Linked DNA regions of Homo sapiens: region 2 is linked to region 1. A link means that fine-mapping ties the variant in region 1 to the expression of a gene that starts in the linked region. Tissue or cell type: whole blood. Region 1 holds a variant in brackets; the other region holds the start of a gene. All regions are shown on one strand. Distances are between the middles of the regions.

Evidence for each region. PIP is the estimated chance that this variant, and not a neighbour inherited with it, causes the effect.
Region 2: it holds the start of CASC3, and the variant in region 1 is fine-mapped to the expression of CASC3 in whole blood (TOPMed, PIP above 0.99).

What each region holds. Positions count from the first base shown.
Region 1 is chr17:40,244,132-40,249,330 of GRCh38, reverse strand. The region is part of intron 1 of WIPF2 (WAS/WASL interacting protein family member 2); the gene reads right to left. Among named protein-coding and RNA genes, the nearest start is that of WIPF2, 27 kb to the right of the region's middle. The variant G/C (reference allele first, on the strand shown) is at 2,736.
Region 2 is chr17:40,137,895-40,143,001 of GRCh38, reverse strand. CASC3 (CASC3 exon junction complex subunit) reads right to left here and starts at 2,465. Exons shown (of 14, transcript NM_007359.5): 1 at 2,223-2,465; 2 at 1,768-1,795; 3 at 1,395-1,432. The coding sequence starts at 2,453. RefSeq lists enhancers at 2,149-2,448, 1,914-2,854.

The sequences.
Region 1 (5,199 bases):
CTACTACCCTTTACACGTGATAAATGAAGAATCCAGTTTAGTTCTTGCTTTTCTCGTACACTTAAAATTATCTAAGAGGTATCCTAGTTACCACTACAATCTGGGGCCTTTATTCAAATGGCATTCTGCTGCTCTAAAACTCAGGTTTCAATTGCAAGTTATTTTAAAAAGACACGAAAATCAAGAAAAATTCTAAATCTTAATGCTATCTTCTATTTTCATGCCTCAGGTAACAGTACTTTCCTTTGATCTCAGTTTTGACTACAAAGTAAATTACAGTTTTTGTATCAAAGCACTGAACAAAATCCCAAAAGGGAAAAAAACTGACCTTAAAAAAACAGGCCACCTCCCTCACTCAGCAAAATCTTAAGGTCCCAGTCCTTCCTTACAAGAATCAGTCATATGAATAGGAATCTGAGATATCAAAAAGAAAATCATCTTTATTTCTTCAATATATGTTTAATTACTTAATATCCTAATAAACCATTTCTCAATACAAAGAAACAGAGATAGGTAAAACAAATTTCAGGATCCTCTCTGAAAAAACCACAACAGCTTTGACTACTCTATCTCCCAGATAATCTAAGGAGAAGACAGTTGTGTCTTCAAAAGAAAAAGATTCCAGACACTCCTCCCTAATGGAATTCTTCTGATCCCATAGTTCAAATCAAATGAAATCTCTCTAACAGCATCAGAGATGAAACATAAATGTTTGGTAGAAAGAGAGTCAGGCAGGGCATTATGGCTCAAGCCTGCAATCCCAGCACTTTGAGAGACTGAGGCAGAAGGATCGAATGTGCTTAGAGACCAGCCTGGGTAACAAAGTGAGACCTTGTCTCTATTTAATAAGAAATATTTTTTAGGCCAGGCACAGTGGCTGACGCCTATAATCCCAGCACTTTGGGAGGCCGAGGCGGACGGATCTCTTGAAGTCAGGAGTTTGAGACCAGCCTGGCCAACATGGTGGAACCCCCATCTCTACTAAAATTATAAAAAAAATTAGCCAGGCACGGTGGCGGGTGCTTATAATCCCAGCTATTTGGGAGGCTGAAGTGCGAGAATCACTTGAACCTGGGAGGCAGAAGTTGCAGTGAGCCAAGATTGTGCAACAGCACTCCAGCCTGGGCAACAGAGAGTCTCAAAAAAAAAAAAAAAAAAAAAAAAAAAGAAATAACTTTTAAATTTTTATTAAAAAAAAAAACTGATGTATCAGCTTTTCACAACCTTTCAATACAACAACCAACCCCAAGAACATTCACATCAAACAAAAAGTTCAAAATGACCAAGTCCACTTTGTATATTTTTCAACCAGGTTTCAGACAAAAATAGAATTAACAGCAAGAAACCAAAGACAATTGCAACAAATGAAAATAAGTAAAAATTGAATGGGTAGGTTTTGTTAAAACTGGATTCTAAATTCGACAGCAATTTCACCCATTCTGATAAGTATTTAACAATTACTAACTTAACCCTATGGTGGCCCATTAGTATCAATTTAAACATTATCCTGAGGCTGGGTGCACTGGCTCAGCCTATAATCCCAGCATTTGAGAGGCCAAGGGGGGTGGACTGCTTGAGGTCAGGAGTTTGAGACCAGCCTGGTCAAGTTGGTGAAACCCCATCTCTACTAAAAATACAAAAATTAGCCAGGCATGGTGGCAAACGCCTGTAACTCCAGCTACTCGGGAGGCTGAGGCACGAGAATCACTTGAACCCAGGAGGTGGAGGCTGCAGTGAGCTGAGATTGCACCACTGCACTCCAGCCTGGGTGAAGGAGTAAGACTCTGTCTCAAAAAAAGTAAAAAAAAAAAAGGCCAGGCGCGTTGGCTCACGCCCGTAATCCCAGCACTTTGGGAGGCCGAGGCAGGTGGATCACTTGAGGTCAGGAGTTCGAGACTAGCCTGGCCAACATGGTGAAACCCCATCCCTACTAAAAATACAAAAATTAGCCAGGCTTGGTGGCACGCACCTGTAATCCTAGCTACCTTGGGAGGCTGAAGCAGGAGAATCGCTTGAACCCGGGAGCTGGAGGTTGCAGTGAGCTGAGATTGTGCCACTGCACTCTAGCCTGGGCAACAGAGCAAGATCCTGTCTCAAAAAAAAAAAAAAAAAAAAAAAAAAAACCCTGAAATAAGAATTAAATTTTCGAGGAACATTTCATACACCTATGTCCATTTTAACAAGCGAGTTGTTTTTGTGTTTTTGTTTGTTTGTTTTGAGACGGAGTATCGCACTGTCACCCAGGTTGGAGTGCAATGGCACGATCTCGGCTCACTGCAACCTCCTCCACCTCCCAGGTTCATGCAATTCTCCTGCCTCAGCCTTCCAAGTAGCTGGGATTATAGGCGCACACCACCACACCCGGCTAATTTCTTGTATTTTTAGTAGAGACGGGGTTTCACTATGTTGGCCAGACTGGACTCGAACTACTGATGTCGTGATCCGCCCACCTCGGCCTCCCAAAGTCTGGGATTACAGGCATGAGTCGCCACGCCCGGCCAACAAATGAGTTCTTAAGCACAGACAGTACCATATCTTTCTAGGGTTCTCTCTCATTATTCTACAGCATACCGTAGCTGCTCAGCAGTCACTTGCTGAATTGAACAAAAGTAAATATAAGAGTAGCACAGGCCTAGCCAGGCGCAGTGGCTCACACCTGTAATCCCAGCACTTTGGGAGGCTAAGGCAGGCGGATCATTTGAGGTCAGGAGTTCAAGACCAACCTGGCCAACATA[G/C]TGAAACCATCTCTACTAAAAATACAAAAATTGGTTGGGCGTGGTGTCAGGTGCCTGTTATCCTGGCTACTTGGGAGGCTTGAGGCAGGAGAATCGTTGAACCCAGGAGGTGGAGGTTGCAGTGAGCCGAGACTGTGCCATTGCACTCCAGCCTAGGCAACAAGAATGAAAATCAGTCTCAAAAAAAAAAAAAAAAAAATGAGCAGCACAGGCAGGGCACGGTGGCTCACGCCTGTAATCCCAGCACTTTGGGAGGCCGAGGCAGACAGATCACTTAAGGTCTGGAGTTCGAGACCAGCCTGGCCAACGTGGTGAAACCCCATCTCTACTAAAACACAAAAATTAGCTGGGTGTGGTGGTGCGCGCCTGTAATCCCAGCTACTCTGGAGGCTGAGGCAGGAGAATCGCTTGAACCCGGGAGGAAGGTGTTGCAGTGAGCCGAGATCACGCCACTGCACTCCAGCCTGGGCAACAGTGAGACTCAGGAAAAAAAAAAAAAAAAGAGTAGCATTGTCTAAAAGAGCAAGCAAGTCTGGGTGGAGGAAAATGCAGCAAGGAATGGATCAACATGCCAGAAACAGAAAACAGACAGAAGAATGGAGATATCTATGAAAAGAGGAAAGAAAGAAACACAAGGCTATACGTGTTGTTCAATGCTCCAAAAAATTTTAATATGCTGAATGCACTCATGCATCCATCATCCAATTAAGTATCCACAACTTAACCACTTAATAAATATTGAAGCACCCACTGAGTGCCAAAGTATTTTTCTAGAACAATGGCTCTCAACCAGGAGGGATTTTGTTCCCCAGAGTCATTGACAATGTCATTGACATATTTGTCACAACTAGGGTAGGGAGTGCTGCTGGCATCTAGTGAATAGAAAACAAGGATGCTGCTCAACATCCTCCAACGCATAAGACAGCCGCCCACAACAAAGAATTATCTGGTCAGGACAGGTGCAGTGGCTCACACCTGTAATCCCAACACTTTGGGAGGCCGAGGCGGGTAGATCACTTGAGGTCAGGAGTTCAAGACCAACCTGGCCAACATGGTGAAACCCTGTCTCTACTAAAAATATAAAAGTCAGCCAAGCATGGTGGCGGGCGCCTGTAATCCCAGCTACTCAGGAGGCTGAGGCAGGAGAATCACTTGAACCCGGGAGGTGGAGGTTGCAGTAAGCTGAGATCGTGCCACTGCGCTCCAGCCTGGGCGACAGAACGGGACTCCATCTCAAAAAAAAAAAAAAGAATTATCTGGTCTACATTGTCAACAATGCTGAGGTTGCTAAGCCCTGTTCTAGAAGATGAGCAAGACAAGCGTCTACTGTCTTGGAGCTTACATTCTAGTGTAAGAAGGAAGAAATAAAATCTCAGTATAACAGTTACTGATAAAAGGAGTAAAAAAAACAGAGAATCATAAAGGTAGAGTATAGGAATAGACTGGAATGTTCTTTTGTTTTACTTATTTATTTTTTAGAGATAGATTGTCCAGACTATGTTGCCTAAGCTGGTCTTGAACGTCTGGGCTTAAGCAATCCTCCAGCCTCAGCCTCCCCAGTAGCTGGGACTACAGCTGCCCAGGTTAGAGTCTTCCTTTGGATAGGGTTGCAGGCTTCAGGATCTAGGAGAATTTAACCACGACAACAACAAAATAGTAATAATAATGATAAAATAATACAGTCACAGGGAAAGGGCCATTGGGGGAGAGTATCTGGCTCTCCCAAGAAGTCTCTCCATGAGCAGAGCATGCCATGTAAACATCTGGGGAAAGAGCATTCCGAAAAGAAATAACAGCAAGTGAAAAAATTCTAACATGGGAATGTAGTTGGTGTGTTAGAGAACTAGTAAAAAGACCAGGATAGCTAGAACAGAGTGAGAAGAGATGAAATCTGAGGCTTTATATATAGGCCATCCTCCAAATCCAAAAGTAGTCCCCTTCTCTGTCCAATACACCAACACTGTAAAACCAAAGAAACCTAAATGAACCGACAGCTTCACACTCAAACCAGAAGTTCGATCGGTTATCTCATTAATCCCACAGACTATACTTGATCTCCTGGCTTAATCTCATCCAGAGACTAAGTACTAACTGAAGGCCTTCCAGGGTTAAAAGTCACCTGTTGGTAATCTGCCCACCTGTTCAGCTGTCCTTCAGCTTTGCTCCTGAAAAGCAATCCAGCATGGGAGGTAGGAGCTCATTACTACAATGGCATAATGGCATCCAGTCCCTAGGCCAAAGAACCCCAAAATGAGAAAAGAGCCAGGAGCTGCCTAAGAGTAGTCACATGCCACTCCAGGAGCCAACAACGGCAGGAACCAAACAGGTTCCTATAATCACACAGGGAATAATGTCAAGAGGAATGAAAAACTTGCCTCCATGTGTTCTAGGACAGACTATAACAGAGGGTTTCCACTAAAGTGTTTCTGGTTTCTCTAAAGTACAAGGAAACAGACTAGAATAA
Region 2 (5,107 bases), 110 kb after region 1:
GATTTTCGTGTCTCAGCCTCCCAAGTAGCTGCGATTACAGGCATGCATCACCACACCAAGCTAATTTTTGTATTTTTTAGTAGAGATGGGTTTTTTTTTTTGAGACGGAGTCTTGCTCTGTCACCCAGGCTGGAGTGCAGTGGCACAATCTCAGCTCACTGCAAGCTCCGCCTCCCGGATTCACACCATTTTCCTGCCTCAGCCTCCCGAGTAGCTGGGACTACAGGCGCCCGCCACCACGCCCAGCTAATTTATTATTATTTTTTTTTGTATTTTTAGTAGGGACGGGGTTTCACCATGTTAGCCAGGACGGTTTCGATCTCCTGACCTCGTGATCCGCCCGCCTGGGCCTCACAAAGTGCTGGGATTATAGGCGTGAGCCACCGCGCCGGGCCAGAGATGGAGTTTCACCATTTTGGCCACGTTGGTCTCAAACTCCTGGCCTCAAGTGATCCGTCTGCCTCAGCCTTCCAAAGTGCTGGGATTACAGGCGTGAGCCACTGCTCCCGGCCCCTGTGGGCTTTCTTGACTGTTGTTCTCTCTGCCTAGAACACATCTTACCCAGCCAACTGTTTAATCTTTCCCGACTGCCTAAGATGGATTCAGTACCCAGCTGTAACACCCTACTTAGCCCTATCCCAGTGCTATCCCCTATCAGCAAGTGGTACAATTGCTTGAATGTTTGTCTGACTTCCTTATTGAGTTGTAAGATCTCTAAAGATAGGAATTTTGTTATAGTGTTCACTATTCCATCCTCAAGGGCTTAACAGATTCTAAAATGTAGTAACAGTTCTAAAAATGTATAGACAAAATCTTTGATCCACCATCCAATTCCCCCTATATATAATCCCATTACCAGAACTCAGGAGTCCACTCAACAACCCAGGAAACAAACACTTACTCTGATGGCATCTCTAGTAGTTTATCCAAAAGACAGGAAACTTTCTCCTAAAAACAGAAAAATCCCCACCTATAAAATGATGGATGCTCTTGGCACAAAACATTCCGAATCCTACCCTTTCAAAGTCTTCAGATAGATTTGGAAAAAAATAACCAATTGGCTGGCTTCTCAACCTACACTGCATAAAACAAACTGTCAAACATCTTTCAGAGGACTTCAAGATATCCTCACTCTCTTATTTAGAACCTCATATTCTTCAGACAGGAAGAGAAGCCAACTAACAGTATAACACCTGTGGCTTGAGACGGCGTGCCCCAAGTTTTCCCTAGGTCTAAAGTGAACAAGACCTTCTGTAACACTTTTTCAGAAGCATAAATGAAGAATACACAAGAGGATAAACACGGAGGTCATGGTACGTTTGCAACGAAGGTGTGTACACGTTTTTAAAAAGCATTTCTGATCTATACCATAGGAAAAAACCTGTCATACTCACTTCCGAGTCTTCTGCACTTTCATAATCCGAGAGAACAGCTGAAATAAAACAGAAATATGTGGAAAAAAAGAAACCCAGAAACATTTTTTGGCTGCTTATTACAGGTCAGACTAAGAGTCTCATTTAATTCTGACATCAACCTACAACGTGGATAAAATTATAGTCCCCACTTACAAAAGGAGAAACAGGCTCAGAGGGTAACTTGCTGAAGACTATACTGCTAAAGCCTATGCTCTTAACCACTATGTTACAAAAAGGCACTCTGTGGCCCTAAATCCGTGACAGTGTGTGAGAATGTCGATGTTGGAAATAGATGACCTGAGTTTATGTTAAAAAAAACTCTTGTCCTAATGGGGTAAAAGATGCTACTCACCATCACCTTCAATGCCATCTTCACTCTCCTGAAAGAAAGCAGAAGACATGGGTTAGTTCTGTGATTTCCAGAGGTGGGGAGCCCAATAAAGAAATGTGGGTGAAAAGCTGAAGATTCAGCACAAAATGGTTGGAGAGGGAGACAGAGATAGGTAAATCTTTATCAAGTAGTAGCCAAGGCAGGTCTGGTCTCCTTCCCTCCAGCCCCGACTTCTGAATAAAACATCCGCTTTCCATCTCCAGCGGCTCTACCATCCTCCCAGAAACCCCCAATCCTTCTTCTTCCCTTGGAACTCCGGATGCAAACTCGCATTGGGATAACTCCCCTTTTCTCTCAAAAACAAAAAAAAGTCCCAGTATCTACTATCAACTCACAGACTACCTAGCATCACCTACACCCCGCCCCCGGCCGGCTCGCCGCCCGGTCCCCACCCCGCCCCGCCTGCGCGCACTCACACACTCCGACTCCTCAGCACTCTTGGCGCCCCCGCTCTCCACCCGCCGCAGATGAAGGGCCCCGGTTCGGCCTCCGCGCTGTGAAGGCAGAGAGCCGCTGCCGCCGCCTCCGGCGCTACCGCTGCAGCTCCCGCCTCCCCGCAACGGGGAGCCGCCGCTGTCGGAGCCCGAAGCACCAGATTCCTCGTCCTCGGTGTCTTGCGAAGCGCGCTGCCGCCGCCGGTCCGCCATCTTACGGAGAACGGCCACCACCGGCGAGGTACTTACGCACCGCGCCCGTCGCAGAGGCTGCTGGGAGGCTGGATAGCTAGTCCCGGCGTGCTACGCGTGCGGCGCTCGGCCATCCCGCTGTGTGTGTGTGTGTGTGTGTGTGTGTGTGTGTGTGTGTGTGTGTGTGTGTGTGTGTTGGGGTGTGTGTGTGTGTGTTGGGGTGTGTGTGTGTGTGTGTGTGTGTGTGTGTGTTGGGGGAGGGGCGGGGCACTGGGCGGGGCCTAGGCCTGCGGCACGTTTGCGGCCGACCCGGATTACGTCTATCGGTGATGTAAGGGGGCGTGGCGCGGCTCCTGACTTCCCTTGGGCAGGCCTAGGGCGAGGGGAATTGAGACTTCAGCAGCCTCCCGGGTTCCTGGCCCGGCCATCTTGGGCTTCCCGAGTGGAAGGAGTCAACCTGTCACAGCTTCACTGCAACACTAGGGCTGTTTCATGGTTTTCTGTTTCCATTTCTCACTTCTACCTACGTTTGAAGCAGGTCAATTTACTGCATTCCTTTGCTTGGTAAAATCACGAATCAAGGTAAATCTTAAAAGCTGTAGTGCTGCGTCAGATTTGCTGCACCAGCCTTGTTTAAGATAACGGGCGAAGGAGAAACCAGTTGTCTGCAGTGAAGCCAGAGGACTTCTTGTTGCAGCGTTTTCTCTGTGTTCTCATTTCCTCTTCACGTTTCTTCCCACCCCAGCCATCACCTGTCCCAAAGTGCAGGCTGGTATGATGCCAGTATTACCGGTTTTGTTTTGGCTTTTTCGAGGCAGGGTCTCACTCTGTTGCCCAGGCTGGAGTGCAGTAGCGCGGCTCACTGCAGCCTTGACCTCCCAGGCACAGGTGACCTCCTTGCCTTAGCTTCCTTAGTAGTTGGGACAACGGGCACACACTACCACACCCGGCTAATTTTTCTGTTTTTTGTAGAGATGGGGTCTCGCTCTTGCCCAGGCTTGTCTCCTGGCTGGGATCAAGCGATCCTTTCGTCTCAGCCTCCCAAAGTGCTGGGACTACAGGCATGAGCTACTGCCCTTGTCAGGATTTTAGAACCTATTTAAAAATAAATGGTCAGTAGAAACAGATGTTGATTCAAAATCCTGACATTATTTCCTTCTTAAGGTTTATGGAAATTATTTCATTTTGGCAAGGCATTGGCCACCATTGAAAAGAATCAGTGTGTTTTCTTTGGACCATTATAAGGATATACAAAGTGCATGAGCTAAGTTTTTAGTGCACCTACAGGAGTGCACGTTAATAATGTATGTTATCAAACAAAGGCCACCATGGCATAGAATTCTTCCCTGAGTAAAATATTTTTTTTTTTTTTGAGAGGGAGTCTCACTCTGTCTGTCGCCCAGGCTGGGGTGCAGTGGGGTGATCTCGGCCCACTGAAAGCTCCGTCTCCCGGGTTCACGCCATTCTCCTGCCTCAGCCTCCCGAGTAGCTGGGACTACAGGTGTCTGCCGCCAGGCCCGACTAACTTTTTATGTTTTTAGTAGAGATGAGGTTTCACCGTGTTAGCCAGGATGGTCTCGATCTCCTGACCTCGTGATCCGCCGTTCTTGGCCTCCCAAAGTGCTGGGATTACAGGCGTGAGCCACCGCGCCCGGCCTTTCCTGAGTAAAATTTTTATAAATGACATGGTTAAGGATCCTGATGTTTATCAAATTTATAGATAACATGAAACTGGAAGTAATTATGAATGCCTTCAGAGATGAAAGGAAAATTCAAGGCCGGGCGCGGTGGCTCACGCCTGTAATCCTAGCACTTTGGGAGGCCGAGGCGGGCAGATCACGAGGTCAGGAGATCAAGACCATCCTGGCTAACACGGTGAAACCCCGTCTCTACTAAAAATAAAAAAAAATAGACGGGCGTGGTGGCAGGCGCCTGTAGTCCCAGCTATTCGGGAGGCTGAGGCAGAATGGCGTGAACCCGGTAGGCGGAGCTTGCAGTGAGCCGAGATCGCGCCACTGCACTCCAGCCTGGGAGACAAAGAGATTCTGTTTCAAAAAAAAGAAAAAAAGAAAATTCAAACAATCTCAGCTAATTAGACAAGTGGCCAAACGTGACAACTTATAAGTCCAGCTCCAAAAGCCAACTGCCTGAGTTCAAAATGGAGGATAATATGATTTAATAAGTGTTAAAGAAAAAGAACCTGGAGGATCTTATCGATCACAGACTAAATTGGTGCAAATAAGGCTGCCAAGTTTAGTGTCTAAATAAGGAAAGTGATAGTCTGCCACTTTGTCCTTCAGTTGTTTAGTCTGGGTCCAGTTTTTTTTTTTTTTTTTGAGGGGGACGGAGTCTCGCTCTGTCGCCCAGGCTGGAGTGGAGTGGTGCGATCTGGGCTCACTGCAACCTCCGCCTTTCAGGTTCAAGCGATTCTCCTGCCTCAGCCTCCTGTGTAGCTGGGATTACAGGCGCGCACCACCACGCCCAGCTAATTTTTGTATTTTTAGTAGAGACGGGGTTTCACCATGTTGGTCAGGCTGCTCTTGAACTCCTGACCTCGTGATCCACCCGCCTTGGCCTCCCAAAGTGCTGGGATTACAGGCCTGAGCCACCGCGCCGGGCCTGGAGCCCACAGCAATCTTTAACTAGGGACTATGAAGAAAGGAGGGATTGGTCTT